Linked DNA regions of Homo sapiens. The protein of the gene in region 3 interacts with the protein of the main gene of each other region in a biochemical or structural test. Each region holds a gene or a part of one and is shown on either strand. Other genes may lie near its edges.

What was found.
Region 1: the proteins of ITCH (region 3) and UBE2G1 form a complex in vitro, tested with the Homo sapiens proteins (2 studies listed by BioGRID).
Region 2: the proteins of ITCH (region 3) and CDC34 form a complex in vitro, tested with the Homo sapiens proteins (3 studies listed by BioGRID).
Region 4: the proteins of ITCH (region 3) and PACSIN1 form a complex in vitro, tested with the Homo sapiens proteins (2 studies listed by BioGRID, with this or other methods).

The regions. Positions count from the first base shown.
Region 1 is NC_000017.11:4,267,208-4,273,757, reverse strand, and holds the end of UBE2G1 (ubiquitin-conjugating enzyme E2 G1), read left to right. Parts: intron 1-1,241; 3' UTR 1,242-4,499; downstream 4,500-6,550. UniProt on the Homo sapiens protein: Accepts ubiquitin from the E1 complex and catalyzes its covalent attachment to other proteins. In vitro catalyzes 'Lys-48'-, as well as 'Lys-63'-linked polyubiquitination. May be involved in degradation of muscle-specific proteins.
Region 2 is NC_000019.10:533,187-542,819, reverse strand, and holds the end of CDC34 (ubiquitin-conjugating enzyme E2 R1), read right to left. Parts: intron 6,984-9,633; coding exon 6,897-6,983; intron 6,578-6,896; coding exon 6,480-6,577; intron 5,808-6,479; coding exon 5,673-5,807; intron 4,143-5,672; coding exon of another isoform or gene 3,830-4,142; exon of another isoform or gene 3,784-3,829; intron 1,482-3,783; coding exon 1,268-1,481; 3' UTR 733-1,267; downstream 1-732. UniProt on the Homo sapiens protein: E2 ubiquitin-conjugating enzyme that accepts ubiquitin from an E1 ubiquitin-activating protein, and catalyzes its covalent attachment to other proteins by an E3 ubiquitin-protein ligase complex. In vitro catalyzes 'Lys-48'-linked polyubiquitination.
Region 3 is NC_000020.11:34,365,104-34,374,736, forward strand, and holds part of ITCH (E3 ubiquitin-protein ligase Itchy homolog), read left to right. Parts: intron 1-4,290; 5' UTR 4,291-4,367; intron 4,368-7,598; exon of another isoform or gene 7,599-7,623; intron 7,624-9,633. UniProt on the Homo sapiens protein: Acts as an Acts as an E3 ubiquitin-protein ligase which accepts ubiquitin from an E2 ubiquitin-conjugating enzyme in the form of a thioester and then directly transfers the ubiquitin to targeted substrates.
Region 4 is NC_000006.12:34,532,076-34,535,723, reverse strand, and holds the end of PACSIN1 (protein kinase C and casein kinase substrate in neurons protein 1), read right to left. Parts: intron 3,304-3,648; coding exon 3,194-3,303; 3' UTR 501-3,193; downstream 1-500. UniProt on the Homo sapiens protein: Plays a role in the reorganization of the microtubule cytoskeleton via its interaction with MAPT; this decreases microtubule stability and inhibits MAPT-induced microtubule polymerization.

The DNA.
Region 1 (6,550 bases), on a different chromosome or scaffold from region 3:
TGTTTCCTTTTCTGCTGTCCTTGGCGCCCCCACCCACCCCCCTTTCAAAGCACATATTAATATAATAAAGACTCTGAAAAGTCTAATAGTCAAATGAGACTTTTAAAGCTTTAACCACTGGGTGCAGTAGCACATGCCTGTAATCCCAACACTTTGGGAGGCCGAGGTGGCAGCGTTGCTTGAGCCTGTAGTTCAAGACCAGCCTGGGTGACGTGGTGAGGACCCTGTTTCTACAAAAAAAAATTAAAAATTATCTGGGCATGGTGGTGTGTGCCTGTGGTCCCAGCTGCTTGGGAGGCTGAGGTGTGAAGATCACTTGAGCCCAGAGGCTGCAGTGAGCCATGTTCATGCCACTACACTCCAGCATGAGGGACAGAGTGGGACCCTGTCTCAAATAAATAACAAACAAAAACTTCAACCTAGTGTTTTTCTAACTTTTTGAACAGGAAACTCAGCCATTTATTGGCTATGTGAACTTGTCTCAGCTTTAGAGGGGAGACTCCTTCATAATGATGATTGTGAGCATTCAGGAAATGAGTTTGTAAAGCGCTTAGCATGCTGCTTGGCACATCAGAACTCGATGAGGCGGTGCTGCTTTTTATGTAGATGTGTTCTTGACTTACAGTCTAACTGGATGATACGAGGCCAACAGATTTGAAACACTTAGAAACTGTGGTTGGGATGGAGGGTCATTTGTGGCAGGCTTTGTGGAGAAAATGGGTTTGAAGGGAGCTATAGTGAGTTAGATAGAATTTAGCAAGTTGGGAAGTGTGGCAATCTTAAGTTGTTTCTCTGAACATCCTCAAATGTTTGTAAATTTCCAAATCACTTGGCTTTTAAATCTTCTCTTATGGATTCTAGATTTAATATAAGTTGAAAGACATTTGAAGTATTGAAAAATCTAAATTAGCGCTGTCCAGTAGAACGTTCTGTGATGATAAGGATACAGCTGTGCTGTTCAGCTTGCCAGTCACTAGCCACATGTGACTACTGAGCACGTGAAATGTGCTTAGCATGACTCAGGAACTAAATTGTAAATTGTACTTAATGGCAATTAATTTACATTTAAAATTAAATATACCCACGTGGCTGTGAGCTACCATAATAGATAGAAACAAAGTGAGCTCAGAATGAAATTAAGGATTTGTTGTCAAATAAATCTAATATGGATAAAACCTACTTACAGTTAATTCTTTTGTAATTGATGAATTGACTATATAATGTTGTTTTTGTTGTTGTAGGTCTCCAATTGAGAAACATGGCACTGTTTTTCCTGCACTCTACCCACCTATTGCTGGACTTCTGTTGTACAAGTTGGCAAACACTGGCTGGAACTGGGCTGCAATAAAACATGCCAGTTATCAATGCTGACAAGAGCCTAACAAGTGCCAACTTACAGATGATTACGCATTTTGAATTCTAATGAACTGTTTTAACCTTCAGGAAGAATTGTAAAGACCTGTACATAGCACAACATGATCCGGATAATATATATACTGTTCATGTACATCCACAAATACACCTTGTACCAAATAATGCTTTCTTGTAGTAGAATAAGAATCGTGTAAATTCTAAGAGATTTTAGCAGGTTTTCTTTCCTATTCATTGTTTCTTATCAGTTTAAAAGGATTCCTTTAAGCATGTCAGATGAAAAGCAATTAGGATTAAAAGTTTCCATTTAATTTCCCTTAAACCCTTGAGGCTTCATTAAACTCTTTTCACTTACTAAACTTTTGTATCTTCTTTGTTTTGACACACTCCCCTTTGCTTTTATCTCTTACCTGCCAGAATGTTCTCAAATGATTTAGTTCAAATACTGAAATACTTAATGAGCAATTACTTGATTTTTAATGATGACTTCGAAGGAGTCATCACTAGGTGCTTTGTCCTTTTTGTATTCTAGTTGCACCCACCTCTTGGATTGGATATAGCAATAACATTTATTGGCCGTTGTGAGCTCTTGATCCCAGTCATTACCCCTGAGAACTAAAAATAGATGGTTCTTAATTCAACTTACTGAAAATTTCCCCAAACAATAGCAAATCTGACTTTTCCCTCTTCAGTTGCCTGGTATTAAGGTTGGATAAATGAAGCATGCACAGCTACAGGCTTTCTACTTAACTTCTGGGTTTGCTATTACAAATCCTATTTACTCTCATACCCTTCTCCTTAGTCCTTCATATTTCTCTGCCTCTATTCTTCTATACTGCAGATTTTTCTCACCTATTGTACAAAGAAATTGCGATGTATATTTTCATGTAATTTGATTTTGGAATTCTGTCACCTTATGTAGTGAGTTCTTCCAAAATATAATTTTTTTTCAATAATTGTCAAGTTGTTGGCTTTTATTGTATTGAATGAAGGCTATAATACTGAGTGCCAGAGAAGTGGTTTAGGAAAATCTCAGGTTGATTCCTTATGCAAATGAACTTTTAATACTTGAAAATCACATGGCCATGGCAGTATATGTATTTGGTTCTATCTAGATTCTTCTGTGAATCTAAAAGCATTACAGGGGTAAATGCTTTGCTATTTGACGTATAGATCCCGTCACTAACAATAGTACACTTGGATGTGATTAATGTTTGAGCTTCAATATATTTCATATCATACAGTTTTCTAAAACAACTTCAGCAAATGGTAAAATGAACATGTGCAGTGTTAAAGGCAGGCCTTAGGCTCCTTCATGTTTGTTGTGAGGTTGTGTGTGGGAAGTAGTCTTTGGCTTATAAGGGATAGAACTTGAGACAGTAGCAGATGGGACATGGTGTTTGATTGTGAGAATCAGTGAGAATTCGTGCATCTCTGCTCTGTGGGGTTTGGAGAAATGCTTTGGCAGAAGAGTGAAAGAACTCCTGCCAAGAGCCCAGACCTCTACAAACGTTGTATGTCCTTTTTTAAGCAGAAATAAAATGGTTGAGGATGTAGTCACAGTAGAGAGTGATTTTTTTCTAAGTCCCTGTCCTCTACTCTGAAGCGTTATAAAAACCTGTAAACATTATACAAACCCACAAACCTTATAGAAACTCGTAAGTGTGTTGTGACTGGAAATTGATTCATTAGAACCCAGTTTTCTTTAAGAACTTTGTGACTTGGTTTTTTTTTTCCTTTTCCAAAGACTGTAAAAATAGTTGCCCCAAAATGTCAGCACTGCACACCCTCCAGGGACTTGGAATACAATCCTTTTTACTTTTTTTTTTTTTTTTTTAAGAAACTGGGTCTCTCTGTCACCCAGGCTGGAGTGCAGTGGCAACGATCATAGCTAACTGCAGCTTTGACCTCCTGGGCTCAAGTGATCCTCCTGCCTCAGCCTCCTGAGTAGCTAGGACTACAGGTGTATGCCACCATGCCTGGCTAATACAAAAAAATTCTTTTAAGAGATGGGATCCCTCCCTTTTAAAATCAGAACTTGTTCACATGGTGGTTGCTTGTGGCAAAACGGAGTTCAAATTTTGCTCTCCTATTGCTATAATTCTGCTAGCAATCTGTTGAGGTGAAACTTGGGATCTGACTCTTCAGCAAGCAGCAAATGACCTAGTAACTCAGGGACAACTATTTTTGAACTTTAAGTGCCACTTTAATGCAGTTAGTTTGATAAAACCATGTGGGTTTTTTTTTTAGGGCTAGCTCTACGGGAGTGGAAGTGAGAGCCAGGCATGAGTGCGTCTCCACATGCTTTTCCACCTGCCCTGAGTGTGTTACATACTGAAACAGGCCTACATAGATGTTACAACTTCCCTTCCTCTGTCGGAGATGTCATCTGTGCCTTTCTCAGTGTTCATCTGATAATGTAAATTTAAATGCCTCTACATTTGATACGAAACCCACATTCAGGTGACACTGAACGAGGTGGCTTTTGTCCCACCAGTGCCTCATCAGTGTGAGGCGATTCCTCTCTGCTTTAGGAAAATGATTTTTCCCCCTAAACTTGTGCCAACCATCAACAACATCTCCATAGATCTTATGGATTGTAGAACTGTTGGCTGTTTCCTAAATTTATTCCAAGTTCTCGTAGAGGCATATAGATTTCAGTCTGTGCTTGTATGGGATAGATGATCTGAGTGGCTTTCTGGCCTCTTTTTTGAGTTTAAAATCCATATGAGGTTGACGTGTCATACTAAGGTAACATGTTTGTGAGGTTATTCCACTAGTACTGTGATCACGTGGGTGTCAGTATCTTTAACGGCCTTCATTCTTGGTTGTGAGATTTTATTTGATATGCCCACTCACCCTCGACGAATCTGCCCGCTTTGGGCTGTGGTGCCTGTGTATCTTTGCCCGTCTGGTCTCCAGTTGGTGGAATTACCTTTTTTGTACTGCCACTTCTCAGCATCTTTGAAATTTGACATAATGTTGCTTCATTTCAGTTTTTTTAGTTCTGTAATTTGTTGATTGTATTTAACTATGTGAGTTCTGTTGTGATGTTTACTGTATTGTAAAGCACCTCATTCATGTGATGAGTGCTCTATAAATCAATAAATGATGACTTAGAGGCTGTATCACGAGCTATTTTGGTTTTAGGATGCAGGTCTCAAAAGCAAGTTGTGGGACTCTTTCTGTATAAACAGCACATGATACCAAAGGAACCACAGGGAAACCTTGTATTTTACAGACTTTAAAGAAGGAACCAGAGAAGTTAACTTGCCTTCCAACCTGATAATGATGCTCTTTAGATTTCCAGTACGTGGCCATGCACCGTTTTAACTCAGAGTTTGTGTGCACTGTGATTTATAACCTTCGAGTGAGCACTTATTAGAACATTATTGGGGATTTTGTCTTTGGCCTAAACTGGCTCTACCATAAAGGTAAGCTGAAAGGTGAGGAACCCAGACTCAAATGTGAACTGGAAGAGACTGCAGGCACCATCTCAGTCACCACCTCTGTCCTCTAAACAGACGGGAAAATGCGCCAATACCTGCCCAGGGGTCATTTAGTAAGTTACTGACAAAAGAGGCAAGACTGAGTAGAGAACCTTCTTTACAAGATACACAAGATATCAACATCCAGCTTTTTATCCTGAATCCTTACAAATAGTTCATACGGAGTTAGTGTTAGATGTTGAAAGCTTGTTTGTCCTTGATATAAATCACTAGCGACTATTAAGGGCTCTTCCTTACAAACTCGGAGAAAGGAACATGGAGTCAGACCTCTTATTCAGCTAAATTATGAACAAGAAAATCCCCCGAGAGGAGTTTTGGGAAGATGAGGGATTATTTCTAGAGTGCAAATACCCGATAAATATATTTGGAATGAACTGTTGTGGAAGGGTCTAGACAATATATATCCCCAAACTTACATCAGTTTTAGACATAATCAGCTACTCAAGGTATAGAGCCAAAACGTTTTATTTGCATGCTGCTTCCAGTGCAGATGAACAGGTTTTCGATGGTGTGTGCAAGGCACGAGGCTCCCAGGAAAGATGTGGATCTCCCGCTCCCTCTCATGGGACAGGGCTAATAACCGCCTTTCAAATTGAACCCTTTCTGCCTTGAGGAGGCCCGGAACCCTCACAGGATTCAGTTCACAGATCAAATGATTTTCTGGGTATGGTATTTCTGGTGGTTCAATTTCAGATGTGTGTAATCTGGCTGCCAACGTAGGATTAGGCTTTTTGGCTTGTGGAGTTGACACTCCTCACTGAGCTTTAGCGAAATGATGAAAGAATTTTGAATTCTGTTCACACAGGTAAATAAACTGAAGGAAAAGCCTTTCACAAAAGGGAGCCAAACACATCTTCTAAGACATAGGAGCTGCACAGAAAGTCCTAGGCAAGAAACTTGATTTTTTTCCTCTTCTCGGCAGTATGCAATATTCACAGTGACTTCCATTTATTCCCAACAAGAGCGCTGGAAATCAAGTTTTTCTATTTGTTGAGCCTCTCTTCTGTGGCAAGCTTGTGCTATGTGTTTTTCCTAAAGGTTCTAGTCACATTGTTAGAAGCAGCTTCCAAGGTAATCATTTCTCATGAGGAAACAGGCTCAGGTTAACTTGCCATCGTTGCACAGCACACAAGTTGCATGGCTGGGATTCGGTTCCACCGCCTGCCTTGCATACTGGGTGTTATTAGCCCTTCTTCACAGGTGAGGAAACCAGAGCTCACAGAGCGTGGATGTGTTGAGACCGGTGCTTGACCCAATTCATCGGACTAGCACTGGAGGTGTCCTCCTCTTCCTGCCCTGCCATGATACCGCACTGCCTCCTGAGTCTGTTCCCCTGTGCTCTTGAAGCTACGGTAGACAGCATTTATTCCCTTCCTGTTCTTCATGTTCCTTGTCTGAGACAGCACCACACTAAGTCCCTCTGAATCTGACTGCAAAACCTGAAGTGGGTCTAAAATGGACCATGCTCCAGTGCTCAGCTTTTTCAAGACGTCTGTATTTCTGGTTATAGCTAATGTTATAGCTCCATCCAAACCTGGTGGGTGCTGTAGTTTACTGAGTACTATGAGTGCTTTATTTCATAGGCTTTACTACCTTCTCTCTAACTCAGGGGTTACAGGTCAGTAAGAGTCCCCTCAAAAGACAAGGGCTGGCCGGGCGTGGTGGCTCAC
Region 2 (9,633 bases), on a different chromosome or scaffold from region 3:
CTTCACTCACAATAGGGGCGGACGCCAGGTTTGGTCCCGAGGGCCATGGTTTGCTGAGACCCCAGGGCCCCATTTTCTGTCCCAACTTGGTGGGAAACCTCATCCTCACAGCTCCTCGACCCTGAATCAGCCACTGAGCGACTTTCCGGGTGCCCAGAAGCGGAACGCAGGCAGGTTCCTGGAAGGCGGTGCCCCGGGAGGGCATGGGAGCTCCGAGCTTTCCTCCATGACATGTAATAAAACGATGCTGGGGACTTCCTGACACCAGGACGTGAGGTGCCTGCCCTGTGTGCCCAGGGCCACGGCTCCCCACCCCGAGGGTGTGCCTGGACGGAGCTGGAGCCGCCGGAGTGCTGATCGGGGGCATCTGTGGTCCTGGGAGCCCTGAGACGCTGAGATCAACGCCCAGGCGGCTGTGGACCCGCGACGAAGCTTTGCTGGATGCCTGCAGAGGCAGCTCCCGTCCCACTAGATGCACCTGGTCACAGGGAGGAGGAACTCTGGGGGCTTTCTGGCCGCCCCTGTCCCGCAGGCTGGGGGATGCTGCCCAGGCCTGTCTGACCCAAGTCATGGGAACGTACAGGCCGCGGGACCCGGCTGCTCCCCGTGCCTCCCAGGACAGGCCTCCCAGATCCACACCTGGCGTAGCCAGGGTCCCAGTGGGACTGGCCGTGTGCAGTCACTCATGGACGTGGAGGCTGCCTCTCCCTCCCAAGCACAGCTTCTCTGGCCTCTCATAAAGTAGTTTTATTTAGATTTCAAACAAACCAAAGCAGGGAAAAGAGTCGGCCACGGTGAATCCGTCCACTCTGTGCTGGACGTGGCTCCAGGACCTGGAGCTGACAGGCAGGACCGGGCCCCTCGGACCGCTACACCTGGGCCTCCCAGGCTGGTAGTGTCAGGAAACGGCCCCCCGCCCACGTTCCCAGCAGCGCCCCCGTGGCTCCTCCGGGGTGCGGCCAGTCCGGAAGCTGGGGGACCCCGGTAGAAGTCGGGCTCAGCTCCCCTCCCGAGGGGACAGGTGGGCCGGCCGCTCCCACCCTGGGCCCGTCCACCGAGCCCCGAGTGACGTGAGTGGCGGTGGGGCAGCCCCTCTTCTCTGAAGCACGTGAAAACCCAGAACAGACATGGGGAGGGAGAAAAAGCCAAAACGAAACAACCAGAGGAGACGGGGACCAGCACAAAACCTCCGTGAGGTAGTCTGTCGTCTAAGGAGCCACGGGTCCGGCCCTAGTGAGGTAAACTCGGCAAGTTTATTCTGGTGGTGTCAGGACTCCTCCGTGCCAGAGTCATCCTCATCGTCCCCGAAGCAGCTGTCGGCCTCCTCCTCCACCTCGCCGTCCTCGTAGTAGTCGTCGTAGAAGAGGTCTGAGCCCTCGTCGGGCGCCGGCGCCTTGGTCTTCACGCAGTACTCGGCCAGCGTGGTGGGCACCTTCACGCCGTCACGCTCCGCGTCCACCTTGGTCCCCAGGACCTGCTTCCTGGGGGGACAGGGTGGGTGAGGGCGCCACCCACGTGCCTGGACTCGGCCCCTGCCCGGCCCCCCTCCCCCAGGTCCGACGCTCACCCCAACGCTCAGGTTTCTCTTAAAACGGCGTGTGGCGACCACTTAGGACAAAGCCCTGTGCGTGAGGAACTCCAGGGGGAGAAATGACAGAGGAGGGGGCTCGGGAAGGGCAGGAGGTGCGGGTGGGAGGCTGGACGGGCGCAGTGCAGTCACACCCGCCTGCCCCGCCCCGAAGCACAACCCAAGGGACCCATCAGGAGCTGGGAGAAAATAACGATGCCGGCAACAGGGAGGGCCCATGCTGCCCCACTGGGGGGCAAAAGCCTTCCTCAGCGCAGGAGCAAAGGAAGCAGCTGGGAGGGCCCAAGGACAGGAGGCAGGACCATCCCTGGAGACGGGAACCAGCACAGGTGAGATGGGAAACGCAAAAACGGCCTGAGCCTCTCCGTGGCCTCAGCAGGATTCTAAACCCGGGGGCCTGGCCACCCCGGCCTCCGGATTCTAAACCGGGGGGCCTGGCCATCCCAGCCTCTGGATTCTAAACCCGGGGGCCTGGCCATCCCAGCCTCCGGATTCTAAACCCGGGGGCCTGGCCACCCCGGCCTCCGGATTCTAAACGTGGGGGGCCTGGCCACCCCGGCCTCCGGATTCTAAACCCGGGGGGCCTGGCCACCCCGGCCTCCGGATTCTAAACCCGGGGGGCCTGGCCACCCCGGCCTCCGGATTCTAAACCCGGGGGGCCTGGCCACCCCGGCCTCCGGATTCTAAACCCGGGGGGCCTGGCCACCCCGGCCTCCGGATTCTAAACCCGGGGGGCCTGGCCACCCCGGCCTCCGGATTCTAAACCCGGGGGGCCTGGCCACCCCGGCCTCCGGATTCTAAACCCGGGGGGCCTGGCCACCCCGGCCTCCGGATTCTAAACCCGGGGGGCCTGGCCACCCCGGCCTCCGGATTCTAAACCCGGGGGGCCTGGCCACCCCGGCCTCCGGATTCTAAACCCGGGGGGCCTGGCCACCCCGGCCTCCGGATTCTAAACCGGGGGGCCTGGCCACCCCGGCCTCCGGATTCTAAACCCGGGGGGCCTGGCCACCCCGGCCTCCGGATTCTAAACCCGGGGGGCCTGGCCACCCCGGCCTCCGGATTCTAAACCCGGGGGGCCTGGCCACCCCGGCCTCCGGATTCTAAACGTGGGGGGCCTGGCCACCCCGGCCTCCGGATTCTAAACCTGGGGGGCCTGGCCACCCCGGCCTCCGGATTCTAAACGTGGGGGGCCTGGCCACCCCGGCCTCCGGATTCTAAACCTGGGGGCCTGGCCACCCCGGCCTCCGGATTCTAAACCTGGGGGGCCTGGCCATCCCAGCCTCTGGCAGGAAGGGAGGACAAGTTAGCTCAAACTTCCTGGAGGGCACCGTGTACACCCGGCCCTATGAGGGGCTGCACCGCGCACACCAGGACCTACGAGGAACCTGCCCCCGGCTCCACCTCCAGGACACGCGTCAAGAATGTCCCCCCAGGACTGGAAGCAAAGGGGCTTCCGGGGGTGGCACAGCAGGGCCAGGCGGCACGCTGACCCCATTTGACAGAAAACAGGAACGAGGCTGCAGCCGCAGGCAATGGGCTCGAGCCCCTATCACCGACCAGGCACGGCTCTGGGCTCTGGGGCTGGCTGCTACCAGGGTGTGCGGGTCCCACAGTGCCCGCATGGGAGGGCACCAGGGAGCAGACAGACAGCCCCAAGCCCAGCCCACAAGCCCAGTGCTTTTTATGGGGATGCATGACGCGTGGAGGGCAGGCGTCTGGCCTCAGGGACGTCCCTGGGTGGCGGGACCCAGCGGACGCCAAGCTTTGCTTTCCAAGCTCTCCGATGGGCTGGGGGGGTGACTGACAGTGCCCCGGGGACGGCACTGCACGGGTGGCAGCAGTGGGGAGACGCAGGGGAGGGCCAGGGTGGACGGGCTGGGGGGGTGACGGTGCCCCGGGGACGGCACCGCAGAGGTGGCGGCTGTGGGGAGACGCAGGGGAGGGCCAGGGTGGGAACTGACCTGCACCGTGGAGGTGCCGCCGGCACACCGCCAGCATGAGCTGGAGGACGGTCTGGAGGTCCTGTTCAGCAAGACCAACATCCCTGACCAAGCCGGGCTCCACGGCAGCCTGCCCGACACAGCTCAGCGGGACTTGGGCTGCCACGAGGCCAACACGCACACAGATGAAAAAACAGGCAGAAACGGCGACCACAGCAGAGTCCACATGGCACATGTGTGTTGGCCCACAGGGAGTTTTGAGGGATAAAAATAGTGTGGCTTTTATTTCTGTGCTGGGATCTCAAGGAGGTGGTGCCTCAGGGAGGTGGCCGGGAAGAACCGGGCCAAGGAGCCAGCCACCTGGGCCAGGTGACACGACCGGACCGGGGCCACCGAGGACATCTGCACCAGAGGGACGGCCAGGGCAGCTACCCTGTGACCTCCAGAGGCCAGCAGGTGCTTGCAGGCCACTTCCCAGGAGGCCGCACGGGGCCCGCCCACCATGGCTGCTCAGAGCCGAGACCGCCCAGCACCAGGATGCTGCCCCGAGATGACCCCACGACACCAGGTACCAGCGAGTGCAGGATGGAAGGTGCCCTGGATGCTCCTGGGTCCTGGGGCGAGGAAGACACATGCATTATGTGTGCAATATTTTAAAAGTTGTTTTTAAGATTCTGTTTATACAAAATACCAACAAAAATAGGTGAGGCCTCTGTGAGGAAATCTATGCAATATCACTCTGAGAAAAAAAAAAAATGGATAGGAAGGGCCTCTATGTAACAGGAAGAGCAGGAACCATTAAGGCCGTCAACCCGTAAAGAAAGCCTTGTCTTTGTACACAGACACGCACGTGTTTACACATTCATGTGAACACAGGCACCCAAGAGAAGGGGCTGTGGGGCTCAGCTCTGGGGCATGAGGGCGATGGGAGGAGAGGGAGAGCCGTGGGTCACCACACACAGCCACGCAAGCTAAGTGGACTGCAGGTACAGAAGGCGCCGGTAGGCGACTGCACAGCTGTACCCAGAGCTCACCAGGCCAAGAGCCTGCAGGGACGCACTCCAGACATGAGTAAGGCCAACACCCCTGACTAACAGTCAGTCACTGGGCACACACAGCACGACCCCATTTTTTCATTAAAGCACAGACACATGTTCCCTAACAGTCAGTCACTGGGCACACACAGCACGACCCCATTTCTTCATTAAGGCACAGACACATGTTCCCTAACAGTCAGTCACTGGGCACACACAGCACGACCCCATTTCTTCATTAAAGCACAGACATGCGTTAAACTGAAAAGCCTGGAAGAATCTATGAAAACACTAACCACCAGGCCAGGTGCAGTGGCTCACGCCTGTCATCCCAGCACTTTGGGAGGCCGAGGCGGGTGGATCACCTGAGGTCAGGAGTTTGAGACCAGCCTGGCTAAGATGGTGAAATCCCACCTCTACTAAAAATTACAAAAATTAGCTCGGCGTGGTAGTGGGCACCTGTAATCCCAGCTGCTTGGCAGGATGAAGGGGGAGAACTGCTCCAACCCGAGTAGTGGAGGCTGCAGTGAGCCGAGATCGCACCACTGCACTGCAGCCTAGGCAAGAGAGTATAACTCTGTCTCCAAAAAAAAAAAAAAAAAAAAAGGCCGGCCGCGGTGGCTCACGCCTGTAATCCCTGCACTTTGGGAGGCCGAGGCAGATGGATCACGAGGTCAGGAGATCGAGACCATCCTGGCTAACACGCTGAAACCCCGTCTCTACTAAAAATACAAAAAATTAGCCGGGCGTGGTGACGGGCGCCTGTAGTCCCAGCTACTTGGGAGGCTGAGGCAGGAGAATGGCGTGAACCCGGGAGGCGGAGCTTGCAGTGAGCCGAGATCGCGCCACTGCACTCCAGCCTGGGTGACAGAGAGAGACTCTGTCTCAAACAAAAAAAAAGAGGAAAAGGGGCAAGAAGCTGGGCTTGAACCTGGCTGGACCCTCCGCCACTCGGCCCGGCCTCCATCTGTGACTGGCACCCTGTAAATGGGCACCAGGAAGCTCCGCCACCCTCACCAGGAAGGTGGGGCTGGGCGGCCGTGGGACCAGGGGCCGGGGTGCAGGCCGGATCTGAGTCTCTCCTCCCGTGACGCCCCCGCCCGCCCTCACCGGATGATGTCTGTGTACTCCCGATCCTTCCCCTTGCTCTCTTTCCACTTCCTGTACATCACGGAGGCGTCCACGTTTGCGGGCGAGAAGGTGTTGGGCTCGTTCAGGAGGGAGATCACACTCAGGAGAATGGTCCTGTGGGGAGAGTGGGTCGGAGTGGGGCGGCCCGGGGCACCCCAGCCTTCCGGCTCTTCTCTGGCCCTGAGGGTCACGGGGACGCCTGGACCCACCCAGCAGGTGACCTTCACCTGGCCTCATGGCCTCTGCTTCTGTCTCAGGCCCCCAGAACAGCAGGGGCTGGACCTGCATCAGTCTCCTCCCTCCCACGCCAAGACCAGGGAGGGCAGCAAGGTGCAGACCCCTCCGTCAGACCCGGGGCTGCCCTCACACCCGCACGTCCTGCCTAGACTACACTCCAGGACACACGGGCAACACGGCCCAGTGCTTGTACCTGGGGACGAGGCCCAGGCGGCACACGTGGCACGAGGTGACCAACCCAGAGACGGCTGGGTAAGGAGAAGGCCCCAGGACTGAGGATGGCGGGACACCTCTAGGTGGTTCCAGACGGTGGGGCCGGCCTGGGGTCCTGGTGGGAGTCTGCACCGACACACGGTGCCGCAGGCCCCGTGAAAGCACCTACCGTGCAGGTACAGCGAGGCCCAGGACCGCCAGCTGGCAGGTCCCGAATCAGGCCTTGGCGCCACAGCCTGTGGGGGAGCCCGGCCTACCTGATGGTCTGGGTGGATACGGGACGGAGCCCGGCCTACCTGATGTTCTGGGTGGACACAGGGGGTTGGGCCGGCTTACCTGACGTTCTGCGTGGGGTTCCACCTCTCTGAGGGCAGCTCCCCGCTCTGGGGGTCGTCCACCGGCGGGTGGAGGATGGAGATACACACGTCCCCCGTCTGCACAAGAAGAAGACAGGTCAGAACAGGTCAGAGGTCAGCACGGGCTCCCAGTGCCCCAGGTCCCGGAGGATGAGGACGTGGAGGACGAGGACGTGAGGCTCCCAGCGCCCCGGGTCCCGGAAGGACGAGGACATGAGGCTCCCAGCGCCTCGGGTCCCGGAAGGACGAGGACGTGAGGCTCCCAGCGCCCCGGGTCCCGGAGGACGAGGACGTGAGGCTCCCAGCGCCCCGGGTCCCGGAAGGATGAGGACGTGAGGCTCCCAGCACCCTGGGTCCCGGAGGATGAGGACTTGAGGCCCGTGGGGGCCGCGCTCACCTCGTAGATGTTAGGGTGCCACATCTTGGTCAGGAACCGAAAGGCTGGTGGAGAGTATGGGTAGTCGATGGGGAACTTGAGGCGCGCCTGCAGGGGCAGAAGGCAGGTGGCTCAGTCCAGCCCAGCCCCAAGACCTGCCCCAGCTCACAAGGTGCCCAAGGCCATCCCACTCCCAGTGCTGGTGCCTGAGGGTGTGTGTGAGGGACACCGTATCCTGCCCAAGGCAGGGACTCTCACAGGCCTGGGGTCAAGTCCCCAGAAGGCTGCCTGAAGCCTTTTCTGAGTCACCCGAGCTGATCCCAGCTCCTACACAGTCCAGGTGGCCGGGACCCGGCCCAGCACAACTGCTGGGGAACGTGGGCACTGGCTGCCCGCGTGGCTCCAGGCCCGTGGCAGCCCAGGTCAGGCATATGGGACCCAGGCCAGGGGCACCCACCAGCAGACAGAATGGACTGGCAGGGGCTCCAGGCTCCCCTTGGATGGAGCTGAAGCCCAGGACCAGGGCTGCACCTCCAGGGCCTTGGCAGCCAGGGTGTGGGGAGGGTTAGCACAGATGATTGCTCAGTTAGCAAACACTTGTGACACCTGCCCTGGCCCAGGCCGTGGGAGGGGATGAGTCAGTATGGCCGTCTGCCCTCAGGTGTCCGGTCTTGGGGGGTCAGGCAGGCAGACCCATAGGTCACAGAAACCTGGCAGGACTCCTTCCCTGTCAGCATCGCCCCCTGTGGTCACCCAGGCCCTGGAGGTCCAGATCTGCTGGCAAGGACGGCCACAGAGGGAGGCCTGAAGCCACGTGCCAGGTGACAGAGCTGTCTGGCCTGCAGCCTGGGGCGTGATGCCACCCACGGCCCTCCTGGGCCACAGCAGGTAAACAAGGAAGCCTCACTGTTTTCCTGCTGGGCCCCAGTGCCAGACACAGAGGTTGTCTGGGTCAGGGGTCCTGGTGGCACTCAGCACTCCAAGGCACGAGAGCAGCACCCCCAGAGCGATCGTGGTGGAAGCCTGGACAGGGAGGGCACTCAGGGGGTCTTGGATCGTGGGCGAGGTCTGGACAGGGAGGGCACTCAGGGGGTCTTGGATCGTGGGCGAGGTCTGGACAGGGAGGGCACTCGGGGGTCTTGGATCATGGGCGAGGTCTGGACAGGGAGGGCACTCGGGGGTCTTGGATCGTGGGCGAGGTCTGGACAGGGAGGGCACTCGGGGGTCTTGGATCGTGGGCGAGGTCTGGACAGGGAGGGCACTCGGGGGTCTTGGATCGTGGGCGAGGTCTGGACAGGGAGGGCACTCGGGGGTCTTGGATCGTGGGCGAGGTCTGGACAGGGCGGGCACTCGGGGGTCTTGGATCGTGGGCGAGGCCTTGACAGGGAGGGTACTCGGGGGTCTTGGATTGTGGGCGAGGTCTGGACAGGGAGGGCACTCAGGGGGTCTTGGATCGTGGGTGAGGTCTGGACAGGGAGGGCACTCAGGGGGTCTTGGATCGTGGGCGAGGTCTGGACAGGGAGGGTACTCGGGGGTCTTGGATTGTGGGCGAGGCCCCTCCCGGACAGGCAGGGCACTTTGGGGGTCTTGGATCGTGGACGGGCCCCTCCTGGACAGGGAGGGCACGCGGGGTGTCTTGGGGGGTGTCCTCTGTTTGACAGGGAACTCACTGGTGCCCCGTAAGGCAAGTGACTTGGCCGCGGCCACAGAGCAAGGCTGGAACTTCAGTCTCAGAACTGTCCTGCGGTTCCCCAAGACTTCAGGCCCCCCAAGCCTGGTGCTGGGTTTCAGGCGGCAATCCTTGACAACAGCCAAGGCCTCATCTGTACCAAACCCCACCAAGTCCCAATGAGCCTCTTATTTTGGGCACCTCTAAGAATGTCTTTTCCCCGGAGCAAACCCAGGCTCAGAAAAGGAAAGCGCCCTGCCAAGGGCAGACAGCAAGTCGGCTGTGGAGGGCTCTCTCTGGCGGCCCCTGCCCCAGGGCTCACTTTGGCTCCTGAAGGAACAGCAGCTGCAGGCAGTGGCTGGGCAGCAGCGGCCCTGGGCACTCAGCAGGTTCTGTATTTCCACGCTCCCCCAACTCCCTCCCAGGCACAGCGGGAAGGGAGAGTCCTCGTGGGTGGCAGCACCCCCGTCTCAACACTGGCTTCTGAGGACTGACCCTGTGGCAGATGTCTAGAGGCCCCCTCCCTGGGAAATCCGGAAAACCGGATTATCCCCTAATGCTGGCCCAGGAAGCTCTGCCCACAATCCCTGGCAACCGGTCTGGTGGGCACAGCAGCCAGAAACCCCCATCCCCTCCTTCCAGAACAGCAGCCGCCTCACAGGCCTGGCTTCGAGGTGGGGCTGCGGCTCCTCAGCCAGCTGCTCCCCCAAGCAGACAGAAGGGGCTGGCGGAGGAGCTGCTAAAACCATTTGGCAACCTCGAGACCCAAACTCTGTTCCCTGTGTGGGGACGCAGGATTCCAGATGCAGAACCCACGGGCGTCCCACTCTCTGCTCAGGAATCGCCCCCAGCAGACCAGGCTGCTGCCCTCACAGCCGCTGAGCGGGTGCGGTTCAGACACTAATTAGCTCGGAGAGCAGACACATATCGTGCGGGAGGCATCGGTCCCTCGGCCCCACGCCCGCAGCTGGCCGGGGCAGAGCGGGCCGGGCCCTGCAGTGTCGTGTCGTGTCCAGGCTCTTGGCAGGAAGTGACGGTGGGAGGGGGAGATTCCTGGACAGGGTGCTCGTTCCCCACCGCTCACACAGG
Region 3 (9,633 bases):
GTGGGGGAATCACCTGATTCCGGGGGGTCGAGGCTGCGGTGAGCTGTTACCGTTGCCACTGCATTCCAGCCTGGGTGACAGAGTGAGACCCTGTCTCAAAAAATAAAAAAAAAAATTTAGAAATGAAGGTGGAAATTCTACTGCTTCTTTGAACTGTGAATTTAAGTTTTGTGAGTCCAAAAGGAATTCCATTACATTCAGCATACAGGTCAAGTCACCAAGGATATCATATGAAATTAAAAAAATGAGTACAGACTACTTCTTCAGTGTATTCTAGAATCAAACATTTCTACATTCTTTAGAAAAAAATACATCTTTTTCGTTTGTTTGAGACGGAATCTAACTTTGTCACCCAGGCTGGAGTACAGTGGTGTGATCTCGGCTTACTGTAACCTCCGCCTCCCGGGTTCCAGCAATTCTTCTGCCTCAGCCTCCGTAGTAGCTGGGACTACAGGCGCGTGCCACCACTCCCGGTAATTTTTTTGTATTTTTTAGTAGAGATGGGTTTTCACCATATTGGCTAGGCTGCTCTCGAACTCCTGACCTCGTGATCCACCTGCCTTGGCCTCCCAAAGTGCTGGGTTTACAGGCATGAGCCGCCACTCCTGGCCCTAAAAAATACATCTTTTCACTTATTGGGAGAGGCAGACAAACCAGTAGTCCCCAAATTTGACCATTAGAATAATTAGGAGAGCTTAGAAATTCCAGGGTCTTACCTTCTGAGATGGATTTAGTAGGTCTGGGTTGGCTTCAACCAATTTATTTTTAACACATGCCTTAGGTAATTCTGATGGTCTTGGGAACCACTGAGGGCAAATGGTACTGTAGACTTACCAAGGAAAGGTCAAAAAGCTTTGAGACGAAAGAGGAAGTGGCCAATTCTGTGTGTGTGGCTGGGTGGAGGATTGGTTAGAAGAGGCAAGATTTGCCCCTGAACCCACATTGGGTCTTACATGAAGAGTAGGAGTGTGAAAAGGGCGGGGAAAGAGAAGGACAGGGTAGGCTGAGTGAATGCCTTAATGCTGTGTGTAAATTCAGAGGATTATGGAACAAAAAGGGTTCAGGGAGTGTGGAGTGGAATGGGGAAGGAGAGCATTTTGAAACGCAAGGTCAGAAAGGTTAAAGGAAGCAAGTATATGAAAAGTGATTTTTTGTTGTTGAGACTGGGTCTCACCCAGTCACGCAGGATGGAGTGCAGTGACAGGACCTCCAGAGCTCAAGTGATCTTCCCACCCCAGCCTCCCTGAGTAGCTGGGACAACAGGCATGCATTAGCATGCCTGGCTAATTTTTAAAATTTTTTTGTAGAGAAAGGTTCTCTTTACGTTGCCCAGTCTGGTCTTAACTCCTGTGTTCAAGTGGTCCTCCCACCTTGGCCTCCTAAAGTGTTGGGATTACAGGTGTAAGCTACTGTGCTCTGGCTAAAAATTTTAAGTATAATGCTAAAAATTTGGAATTTTATGTTGGTAGAAATAGATACAGGGCTGGGCTCAGTGCCTCACACCTGTAATCTCAACAGTTTGGGAGGCTGAGGCGGGTGAATCGCTTGAGCTCAGGAGTTTGAGACCAGCCTGGGCAACATGGTGATATCCCGTCTTTACCAAAAGGAAGGAAAAAAAAAAGAAATAGATGCAGATTTTTCGACAGGGAAATGATGTGAGTACATATGTGTTTTAGAAAATTGCTGTGTACTGCAGGACAAAGATAGGTATCAAAAAACAAAAAAAGAAAGATTGCTCTGGTGATGAGCGAAAGGATGAGGGACTAGCTATTGCAGAAGTCTAGTTGAGAAATGACAAAGCCTGACCTTGGAGAGAGGTTGTGGGGATGATCAAAGGATTGGATTTAGCTTTTTACTAGTGCAATATTGTTGCCATATTTCTAGATGAGGATTTTTTTTTAGAGCTAATCTGGGTAAAGGGCTCCTTTTCTGTCAAAAGAACCCATTAGCAAGTCTGAATAATATTGCCAGGTTATATATGTTATGTATAGTATGAGAGTGAATTGTTCATTAGCATCTTTGAGAAATTAGAAAGAACTATGTCAGGTGTAATTTGGAAGAGAACTTGAAGTTTGTTATTGTTACTATTTTTGAGATGGAGTCTTGCTCGGCCATGCAGGCTGGAGTGCAGTGATGTGATCTCGGCTCACTGCAACCTCCACCTCCCGGGTTCAAGCGATTCGTGTGCCTCAGCCTCCCAAGTAGCTGCCTCCCAAGTAGCTGGAATTAGAGGTGCATGCCACCAAGCCTGGCTAATTTAGAACTTGGAGTTTGGACTGAAATTTATGCCTCTAAAAAGTATTGATCTAGGCTTGTTGGGAGTGTTTTTCTCTCAGCCTGTAGAAACTTGCTCATTGAGTTTTAGAGTTGGGAGAAGTTACAGAGATTATCTAGTCCATAATGGCAAATATATTTTGGTTTATTGGCCAGCTCTAATTGGAAGCTGCCAGAAGCACTGTGTTTGGAAGGATTCTGGTTGTAGGTGCTCTGAGAAATTGTATTATGGTTGATCAATGATGTCTCCTGTGGACAGTTACCTAGTAGGTAGTAGACATGTGCCAAATATATGCTATTCTTAGATAAGTCCAATCTCTTAGTTTTCTGTTTTGTTGTTGTTTGTTTGTTTTAAAGGTTAAATAATTTACCTGAAACTAGTTAAGAGTAAGAACTAGAACTAGAACTGGGTTTTGCAACTCTGGGACTGGTATTCTCTGGTTTACAAAGATCAATGTGCACTACTGAAGAGCTTCTGGTATTAGACTAGAAAAAGAAAAGGGAGATTTTTAGCCTATGCGTCTTGACTGTTTAGGCAAGAGTTTAACAAGGAATTTTGGCCTAGAAGTAAGTTTTGTTATATTCATTCTGTCTTAAGAAATTTGTGTTAGGGCCGGGCGCGGTGGCTCATGCCTGTAATCCCAGCATTTTGGGAGGCTGAAGCGGGCAGATCACGAGGTCAGGAGATCGAGATCATCCTGGCCAACGTGGTGAAACCCCCATCTCTACTAAAATACAAAAAATTAGCTGGGTGTGGTGGCATGCACCTGTAGTACCAGCTACTTGGGAGGCTGAGGCAGGAGAACCACTTGAACCTGGGAGGCGGAGGTTGCAGTGAGCTGAGATTGTGCCACTGCACTCCAGCCTGGCAACAAGAATGAGACTCTGTCTCAAAAGAAAAAAAAAAAAAAATTCGTGTTAGTACTGATAGGAAATAGTCATCTGTTTTGTTGTTTTGCCACTTTCTTTCTTGTTGCCTAAGTCTCTGTTTTGGGTTTTGGACATTGGTTTCCTTTATAAGAATTAAGACAAAAGTATGTAAGGTTTTTTTTTTTGTATTTATAGTACTTAGCCAAATTCTGGGCTCATAATAAGCACTCAGTAAAGGCATGTTGACTTTTATGGCTGTAAATGATACTGGCTTTGAGTCAATATAAATTAGTTAGGGGGTTCACAGAATTGAATTGCAGCATTCTCTGGTTGGGAGGTTGGCTTTCAGCTAAAAACGTTAAGTTGGAAACTATCCTCACAACTAGAAGCAGTTAACCAGAAGCTGTTCCTGCCTCTATCCTCCTCCAGTCTAGCAGTGTACTGTCCTTGAAAAACTGCTGCCAGCTCAGCTTTTTTGCTTCTTTTCAGAACTGACTATATCCAGATCCTTGGTGTGCGTTTTCTTTTCCTGTCCCTAGGAGTCTCCAAGTTGCAGGGACTATCATTATGGTGACCCTTATAGGCTGGTGTATTTATATGGCCATCCTCATTTTGCCAGATAGCCGTCATACTCAGATTGGTGTCTTCCCATAATACGTATGAATCATTTTCCCTCAGTTCTTTCTTTTGTCCTGTCTGCTCCATTAAAAATTGTCTATCCCATGAAATTTTTAAAAGAGACTTTGTGCTTTTAGAGTCGCAAGGTCGTTGCAGATCTGATGTGTTTAACTATAGAGGTCAGCTGGGTGTGGTGGCTCACGCCTGTAATCCCAGCACTTTGGGAGGCTGAGGTGGGTGGATCACGAGGTCAGGAGTTCAAGACCAGCCTGACCAATATGGTGAAACCCCATCTCTACTAAAAATACGAAAGTTAGCCAGGCGTGGGGGTGCACGCCCGTAGTGTAGTCCCAGCTACTCAGGAGGCTGAGGCAGAAGAATCGCTTGAACCCAGGAGGCGAAGGTTGGAGTGAGCCAATATCATGCCACTGCACTCTAGCCTGGCGACAGAGCAAGACTCCATCTCAAAAACAAACAAACAAAAAAATATAGAAGTAATGTGTTAATGGACTCTCCTTCCTTTCTCAGGTACCATGCATTTCACGGTGGCCTTGTGGAGACAACGCCTTAACCCAAGGAAGTGACTCAAACTGTGAGAACTTCAGGTATGGTGTCATCCTGTGAGAGAAATTGGGGGCAAGAGTGATGCAGAGGCCAAGCTCTGGTCTTATACCTGCTGTGAGGAGAGAGCAGTGTTGATGCTAGCTGCATCAGTTGGTTGAACATATAGGCAGCTTCACTTGGTTCTGAAACCCAAAGCTGCCTCTGCAGGGATTAGCCTGTGAGCCACACTGTGCTCTTAATTTGGGTTTTCTGACTTTTCTGTTTTTGTAGATCCCTTATACATATGCATACTTTTTCTATTTGTGTTGTTTTATACACGTTTATCTCTGTATACTATCTAGACATGTGCATGTGTAGGATTAAGAGGTGGGTAATGAAAAAGAAGACAACATGGCCAGGTGCAGTGGCTCATGCCTGTAATTCCAGCACTTTGTGGGGCGAAGGTGGGAGGATCACTTGAACCCAAGAGTTTGGGACCAGCCTGGACAACATGGCGAGACCCTGACTCCACACAAAATAAAAAAAAATCAGCTGGTGTGGTGGCGTGTACCTGTAATCCTAGCTGATTGGGAGGGTGACATGGGAGGATCACTTGAGCCAGGAGGTTGAGGCTGCAGTAAGCCATGATCACGCCACTGCACTCCAGCCTGGGTGACAGAGTGAGACCCTGTCTCGGAAAAAAAAAAAAAAAAAGACAACATGGTTCAGTGCAGAAAGAATAGAGGACTTGGAAAGAAAAGATCTGGGTTCCGATTTGATTTTGCCACTGACAAGCTGTGTGACTTTCGGCGAGTTATTTAATCTTGCCAGACCTCAGTTTATACATCTGTAAAATAGGTAAGTATTGATTCCTGTCTCCATCCCTGGCATTGTTGTGTGGATCAAATAAAATAATACCTATTAAATCTTTAGAAAAGGAAATGAATTCATGACTTAAAATGTTATCTTGGCCAGGCACGGTGGCTCATACCTGTAATCCCAGCACTTTGTTTGGGAGGCCAAGGTGGGCGGATCACTTGAGGTCAGGAGTTTGAAACCAGTCTGGTCAACATGGTGAAACTCCATCTCTACTAAGAATACAAAAATTAGCAGGGTGTGATGTCATGTGCCTGTATTCCCAGTTACTTGGGTGGCTGAGGCAGGAGAATCATTTGAACCCAGGAGGTGGACACTGCAGTAAGCCAAGATCGTGCCACTATACTCCAGCCTGGGCAACAGAGTGAGAGTCTGTCTCAAAAAAAAAAAAAAGAAAAGAAATGTTATCTAGATCCACAAGGTGAGAGAAGTTGAGAGTAGTATTGTGAAGGAAAACATGAGGACAAGACAGATCACTTTAAAAGGTCAGGAGAGAAGGAAGACTACTGGGTAAGAAAAAAAAAGTAGAACATAAAGTTAAGCAGTAAGAGAATAGGGAGTGAATGAAGTTGAGCAGGTGAATTGTTAGATAAGAAAGCTGAGGCTGGGCGCGGTGGCTCACGCCTGTAATTCCAGCACTTTGGGAGGCCGAGGCGGGTGGATCACGAGGTCAGGAGATCGAGACCATCCTGGCTAACAAGGTGAAACCCCGTCTCTACTAAAAGTACAAAAAATTAGCCGGGTGTGGTGGCGGGCGCCTGTAGTCCCAGCTACTCAGGAGGCTGAGGCAGGAGAATGGTGTGAACCTGGGAGGCAGAGCTTGCAGTGAGCCGAGATCACACCACTGCACTCCAGCCTGGGCAACAGAGCCAGACTCCGTCTCAAAAAAAAAAAAAAAAAAACTGAATAGGAAGATACTGGTAAAATAGAACTAAAATATGATCCAGCATTGCCACTTTTGGGTATATATCCAAAGGAAATAAAATCACTTCTTCTTTTTTTTTTTTTTTTTTTTTTTGAGATGGAGCCTTCCCCAGGCTAGAGTGCAATGGCACGATCTTGGCTCACTGCAGCTTCTGCCCCCTGGGTTCAAGTGATTCTCTTGTCTCAGCCTCCTGAGTAGCTGGGACTCGGGAGGCCAGGCGTGCACCCACCACACCTGGCTAATTTTGTATTTTCAGTAGAGACGGGGTTTCACCACATTGGCCAGGCTGCTCTTGAACTCCTGACCTCAGGTGATCTGCCCGCCTCTGCCTCCCAAAGTGCTGGGATTATAGGCGTGAGCCACTGAGCCCGGTCCTGTTCTTTTTTATAATCAAGAGAAAGGAAGGAGATGGTGGAATGATTTGTGATAGCTACTATAAAGCAATTTAAAAAATATTTAAAAGTATTATTAAAGTATTTAAAATATCTTTAAAATATTTCTCAGCATATCCATTTCATCTCAAGCTCACAAAGCAGTTCTTTGTGGAAAGGTATTTGAGCCAACATTCAGGAAACCTGCGTTCTACCATTGGTATTACTGGTCACTTAAATTCTGTGATCTTGGGCAGCTCACTTAAATCTCCCTGGGCCTGGTTTCCTCACTTATCTATTGAATGTTTTGAATATGATTTCTCAGGTTCTTTCCAGCTCACTCTATTATATTCTGTGCTTTATGTGCTAACTCACTGATTTTTCATGGCTTTGTTGACATCACAATATATGACTGATATCAGAAATATCTTATAATAAGGCTTCGGCCGGCCGCGGTGGCTCATCCCTGTAATCCTAGCACTTTGGGAGGCTGAGGCGGGCGGATCACGAGGTCAGAAGATCGAGACCATCCTGACTAACATGGTGAAACCCCGTCTCTACTAAAAATACAAAAATTAGCTGGGCGTGGTGGCGGGCGCCTGTAGTCCCAGCTACTCGGGAGGCTGAGGCAGGAGAATGGTGTGAACCTGGGAGGCGGAGCTTGCAGTGAGCCGAGTTCACGCCACTGCACTCCAGCCTGGGCGACAGAGTGACAGAGGGATACTTTGTCTCAAAAAAAAAAAAAAAAGGCTTCATAATGTCTGATGCTTTATAAATGAGAAACCATGTTATTTTAAGTTCTACTTTTTTTTTTTTTTGAGAGGGAATCTAACTCTGTCACCCAGGCTGGAGTGCAGTGGCGCAATCTCAGCTCACTGCAACCTCCGCCTCTCGGGTTCAAGCAATTCTCCTGCCTCAGCCTCCTGAGTAGCTGGGATTACAGGCACCCGCCACCATGCCTGGCTAATTTTTTGTATTTTTAGTAGAGATGGGGTTTCACCGTGCTAGCCAGGATGGTCTCGATCTCCTGACCTCGTGATCTGCCTGCCTCAGCCTCTCAATGTGCTGGGATTACAGGCATGAGCCACCGTACCCGGCCTTTTAAGTTCTACTTTAAACATTGGCACTGAGAGACCTGTAGGAAACGTAAGTATAGAAAGTTTAAGTTTGTAATATTTGACAAGGATCTGTTGAGCTGCTATTGTGCTAGGTTCCAAGGGGTACTCAAATATAAAACTCCTGGTTTAAGGATTTTGTCAGGAAAACAGACTTCCTTGCCAGTGATTGATTATTATAAAAAGGAAGTTGGTAAATGTTACAAGAGTTTCATTGCATTGCAATTTAAGAAATTAAGTTCAGATTTTTTGGTTCCTTTAACATGATTGAATGTATTCCTTTTTTTTTTTTTTTTGAGACGGAGTTTTTCTCTTGTTGCCGAGGCTGGAGTGCAATGGTGCAATCTCAGCTTACTGCAGCCTCCACCCACTGGGTTCAAGCGATTCTCCTGCCTGAGTCTCCCAAGTAGCTGGGATTATAGGCATGTGCCACCACGCCCAGCTAATTTTGTATTTTTACTAGAGATAGGGTTTCACTGTGTTGGTGAGGCTGATCTTGAACTCCTGACCTCAAATAATCCACCTGCCTCGACCTCCCAAAGTTCTGGATTACAGGCATAAGCCACTGCACCTGGCCAAATGTATTTTTTTTTTTTTTTTGAGGCAGAGTCTTGTTCTCGCCCAGGCTGGAGTGCAGTGGTGTAATCTTGGCTCACTGCAACCTCCGTTTCCTGGGTTCAAGCCATTCTCCTGCCTCAGCCTCCTGGGTAGCTGGGATTACAGGTCCCTGCCACCATGGCCAGCTAATTTTTATATTTTTACTAGAGATGGGGTTTCACCATATTGGCCAGGCTGGTCTCAAACTCCTGACTTCAGGTGATCCGCCTGCCTTGGCCTCCCAAAGTGCTGGAATTATAGGCATTCGGCCTAACATAATTGAATGTATTTTAAGTGCTGCTGTATGCTAGACATTGCAGGGACTTATGGTGAAAAAGCAATCTCTGCCCTCCAGCAACTCGCATTTTTTTTTTCCATGTCTGGAAATTGCTTACCCTAATAGATCTATCCTTCTGTCCCAGAAAAGAGAAGAATTTTAATACTATGTCGTCACTTACAGGTTAAGAATTCATCTACATATTGAGCTTAACTCACTCCAGAAATATCTACTAACTTGCTTGCTTTCTGAGAAAATGTTTATTATTTTACTGGATTCTGCAACCTTTTCTTTGTCAGTTACAAGAGAACATTTTTTTTTTTTATTTTTTTTTAAGATGCAGTCTTGCTTTGTCGCCAGGCTGGAGTGCAGTGGCACAGTCTTGGCTGACTGTAATCTCCGTCTCCCAGGTTAAAGCGATTCCCCTGCCTCAGCCTCCCATGTAGCTGGGACTACAGGTGCCCACCACCACGCCTGGCTAATTTTTTGTATTTTAGTAGAGACGAGGTTTCACCATGTTGGCCAGGATGGACTTTTTATTTTTTATTTTTTTAAGACAAGATAAGCTCCAGAAATAACCATCTGCATTTAGGTGAACTTTGATTTGCTTGTTAGGCCTTCATTCGTGCAAAGAAAGAGTAGGTTCTACAATTTTGTCTTGATTATTTTTCCAAATAATCAAATTTAGTTGGTCACAAAGGAAAGGATTTTAGTCTAAAGGATTATATTGTAGGAGTTAACAGTATTTACTGGAGTTAGGTTGATTTTGAATTTTGACTCTACTGTGTAGTGGTGGTATGATCTTGGCCAACTTGCCTAACTTCTTTTTGCCTTAGTTTTCTCATCTGTAAATTGGGAATAGTAATAGCATATATACATAGGTATTATGTGTTTCTGCTTGAACAAGACTTGGCTCACAGTGTGAAGTGTTAGTCGTTGTTTTCATTATCATCATTACCATCAACCTTATCTTTCTTAAAGTTATGATCTGAGTTCATAAATCATTCAGTAAACCTATTTAGGCTGAGCATTGTAAATTTAAATGCCTGCAAGGGCTGGATGAACATTTAGTAAGTAATGACAGATCAGACTGGGACTTTAAGTGAACTAGGGAATTCATTCCCCTCCAAGGGAGCAGCTGTTAAAGCAGCTTTGGCTTACAATTTT
Region 4 (3,648 bases), on a different chromosome or scaffold from region 3:
TCCCACGGGTCCCACACAGAAATGCATTCAGAGCCAGGCGAGACGCAGGAAGGCATGGCACAGCCCAACATCACCGCACAGGGAGCTTGGCACTGTGGACAGCCAGGAACCGTGGGCCTCAGCAGTCACTTTTAGAATTCTGCTTTAAAAAGCAAAACCTATTTGAGGACCTCATTCACTCTTGATCCATGAATGTGGAACCCTGAATGCCCCAGCTCTCCTGGTCAGGGCCTGTCACCAGGCACCCGGAACCTGAATGGGCCAGAGCTCCAGGAGCCTCCAGTATCACCCTCCCCAGTCCAGACAAGACCCAGGCCCCCGCAGGGCGAAGGGACCGGCTCTCAGTGGCCTAGTCTGTGGATGGTGGGCCAGGACAGCACCCAGTCCTGCTCGGGCACCACCCCTACCCCCCTGCATCCCAACCACAAATAGCTCTCAGAGGGCTCAGAAACCCCCAGGACTGAAGGTGCACAGACTCAAGATGACAATGCGCAGCCAGGTTGACACAGTTCTGGATTTTATCCACAGTCATACAATCACAACTGATATATATATATATTTGTATTTATATACCTTTAAATTACACAATCATGTACAAAACAGGTGCATTGCTGAGACCACAGCACTTCTCGGAGTTTCACAAGTGTCGGAACTAATGGAGTCAGGAAGCCTAGGGCGGCAGACGGCGGGCGGTGGGGCAGCCCTGGTTCCTTGCAGAACCAGGCCGCAGAATGGTGGTTAACTGGGGACAAAACACATTACTCGCCGAGCCCCACCAGGGCGGGCCCGTGCAGCATCGTGGGTGCAGGCAGGAGCTACAGGAGGAGGCCGTGGGCATGGCAAGGGGCGTGGCCCCCACACTCGGTGTTGAGTGCCCTGACACCAGCACTGGCAGGTAGGGCTGGGCCCTGGAGCTCAGGGGGACTTCCAGGTAGGAGACCCTCCCGCTCTGGGGCCCTGAGGACCTGGGGACTGAGAGAGTGGTCCCAAACAGGGCCCTGGAGGTGGCTGCTCAGGACGGAGGGGGTTTCGAGTCCCTGCCCTGGAGTGGGCAGCTAGAGTGCTAAGAGGGACAGGCTGGAGTCCAGCTGGGGCTGCAGCCCCTCCCAGGTGCTGGGAAGCCGCTGGCACAGAGAGGGGGAGCCCAGGCCCCAAGGTGCAGATTGCCAGCTTCCCACCTTTCCAAGGTAAGCGATGAGGGACAGAGGCCCCCAACCCCAACTCCTGCCTGGGGAAAGGCTGGAGAGAGAGGCTTCTGCACTGGAGCTGGGAGGACTGCAGGCTTCCAAAAGCTTGCTTCAGGCTCTGAGGAGCCCAGGACACACCTCAGGCTGCAGCCGAAGCTCGGAGACCAGACAGTGATAAGGAAGGGGGTGCTGACGGCAGGAAGGAGGTCTGCCTGTCCCCGGGGTGCCATCGCCCCTGGCCCTGAGGGAGGCCTGCCCCAGCTCAGGCCCTGCCAGAGTGTCAGGACCCTCTGTGCCCACATGAAGAAGGTCAGAGCCTTGAGGCTGGGGTCTACTACCTCCTAACAGTGGGCTGTTGGGAGAAGCAGCAGGAGCAAAGGAGGACTGAGGGGAAACAGGGCTGGGCTGGCTCTCTCTCTTTACCTGGAGGCCCAGGAGGCCAGGTGTGCAGGAGGGAGGAGGGCATCTGCGGTCCAGAGGCCTAGAAGTGGCATCCACTGTAAGCAAGTCTCACCTGGTGCTGCAGGACTTCTCAGCTCCTTGCCCCAGAGGTCCCCAAGAGACTTTTCTTCCAGCTCCCCGCCCTCATGGGGTTTTGTCCAACCCTGGTCTGCTTCCCAAGCCCCCGCACCCTCTCGTGCGGTACCTAGCACTCCGGCACCACTGCTTTCACCAACCAGCAGGTGGGCCCTTTGCTCCCACCCACCCCCAAAGGTCCTTTCACTCTGACCCAGGTTTGGAGACATGGAAGGGCTGCCAGCAGGGAGAATGTTGTTCTGGGGGCCGTGGGGACAAGGAAGAAAAACATGTGACTATCTTCTTCCTGAGGGCCAGGATTCCTCCTTTCTGCTGAACTCAGCTGCAGGCTCTCCCCTGATGTCTCAGGCTGGAGGCACCCGTGCGGCCTTCACGGGCTCCCCAGGCAGGCCAGAGAAGAGGACAGAGGAATGGTTAGGCCAAGAGCCTTGCAGGTACAAGGCTTGGCCTCATGGAGGCTGATGTGGAACCCAGTGATTTTATGGTTTTTGGATGGACATGGAGGGAGAGTGGGGGGCCAGGGGAACAAGATGATCTCCTCCCCAGCAAATGGGAGCAGGCTGCTACTGTTGCTGGCTTTGCCGTAGGTTTGGGGGTCCCCACCCTAGGCCAGGGGACTTTTGAGAGGGGACAGGTCCTCTGCAAGTTGCTGAGGGGGTTTGGATCTGCTGAAGAGCCGATGCTGAAAGTGCTGATAGCTGGAAAGAAGGGCCTGCGTAACAGCGTCTTGGTCCCTCAGATGGGCCTGGGGCTGGGAGGGCTGGCACAGCCCGGGCTGAGGGCCTGCATGCCCTTCATTCACCCTCCTGTACCCCAGTGACACCATGACTTCCTCCAGCTCACCCCTCTTTCATGTCTGGGGGACCCCTGGAAACCTCCATGGGGGAGGAGGGTGACCGTTCCTCCTCCAGTCCCACCGGTCCCAAGGGACGTGGCTAGGAGTAGAAGGGTGCTCCCCGGGGCAGAGTGGAAAACTAAAGATGGGGAAGCCTCCCTTCCAGGGGTCTGGAGAGGAGGCCTTTGAGAGCAGGGTGGTGGAGGAAGGGAAGCAGGGCAGGGGAGGAAGAAGAGGTTAGGAAACCAGGCCAGGGAATGGGGCAGGTGCCGGCAGCCTGGAGTGGAGTGGGACGGAGGGAGTGAGGCGGGGTGGAAGGGTCAGGAGACATCCATCCCTCAGGGCTCAGGAGACTCTTTGGTGGAACCCGAAGAGCAGATGTTGTGATGTTGGGCTAAGTCCTAAGACTGTTACCTACCCTGGGGCCACCCCAAGCCCCAGCACCCCAGCCTCCAGGTGGCCCTGCAAATGCTCTGTCTCTGCATACTTTGTTTTGTTCTGTTTTGACTTTTAAAAAAATAAAAGCTTGATCGGAAAATATGTCTGGAACTCTATGGCGAGGGGAAGGAGACGAGAGTGGGAGGGGAGGGGCGGCAGTGGGGAGGAGTGACGGGAGTATGGAGGGAGGGGGCCTCTAGATAGCCTCCACGTAGTTGGCAGGGTAGAGGCCCAGCTGCCCGCTGTCCAGCCGCCCACGGCACCAGCCCTGCTCATCCTCCTCGCCCAGCTTGGTGAGTTCGTCTCCTGGGAAAGAGAACACAGGGAGGGGCTCAGAGAGAAGGCTGCCCCTCCCTCAACGCACCGGCTGCTAGGGGAACCCTCCAATACCCACCTCCTGATTACTGCACTGGGTTTTAGATTCTTAGGCCCCGCCCCTGGAAACCAGCCCCAGTCCCACGCCAACATTCACGTGCCACCCTTGGCATAGGGGTCTTGGCCTACCTCAGCCATTCACCTAATCTGGGTGTCGGGTCCGTCCCCAAAACCAGACCTCGCATCCACACTATTCTCAGGTTCTGACTCCGCCCCTGGCACCAACCAATCTAAATCTTGCCCCCACTCCCATCCTGGGCCCAGGTCACGCCCACA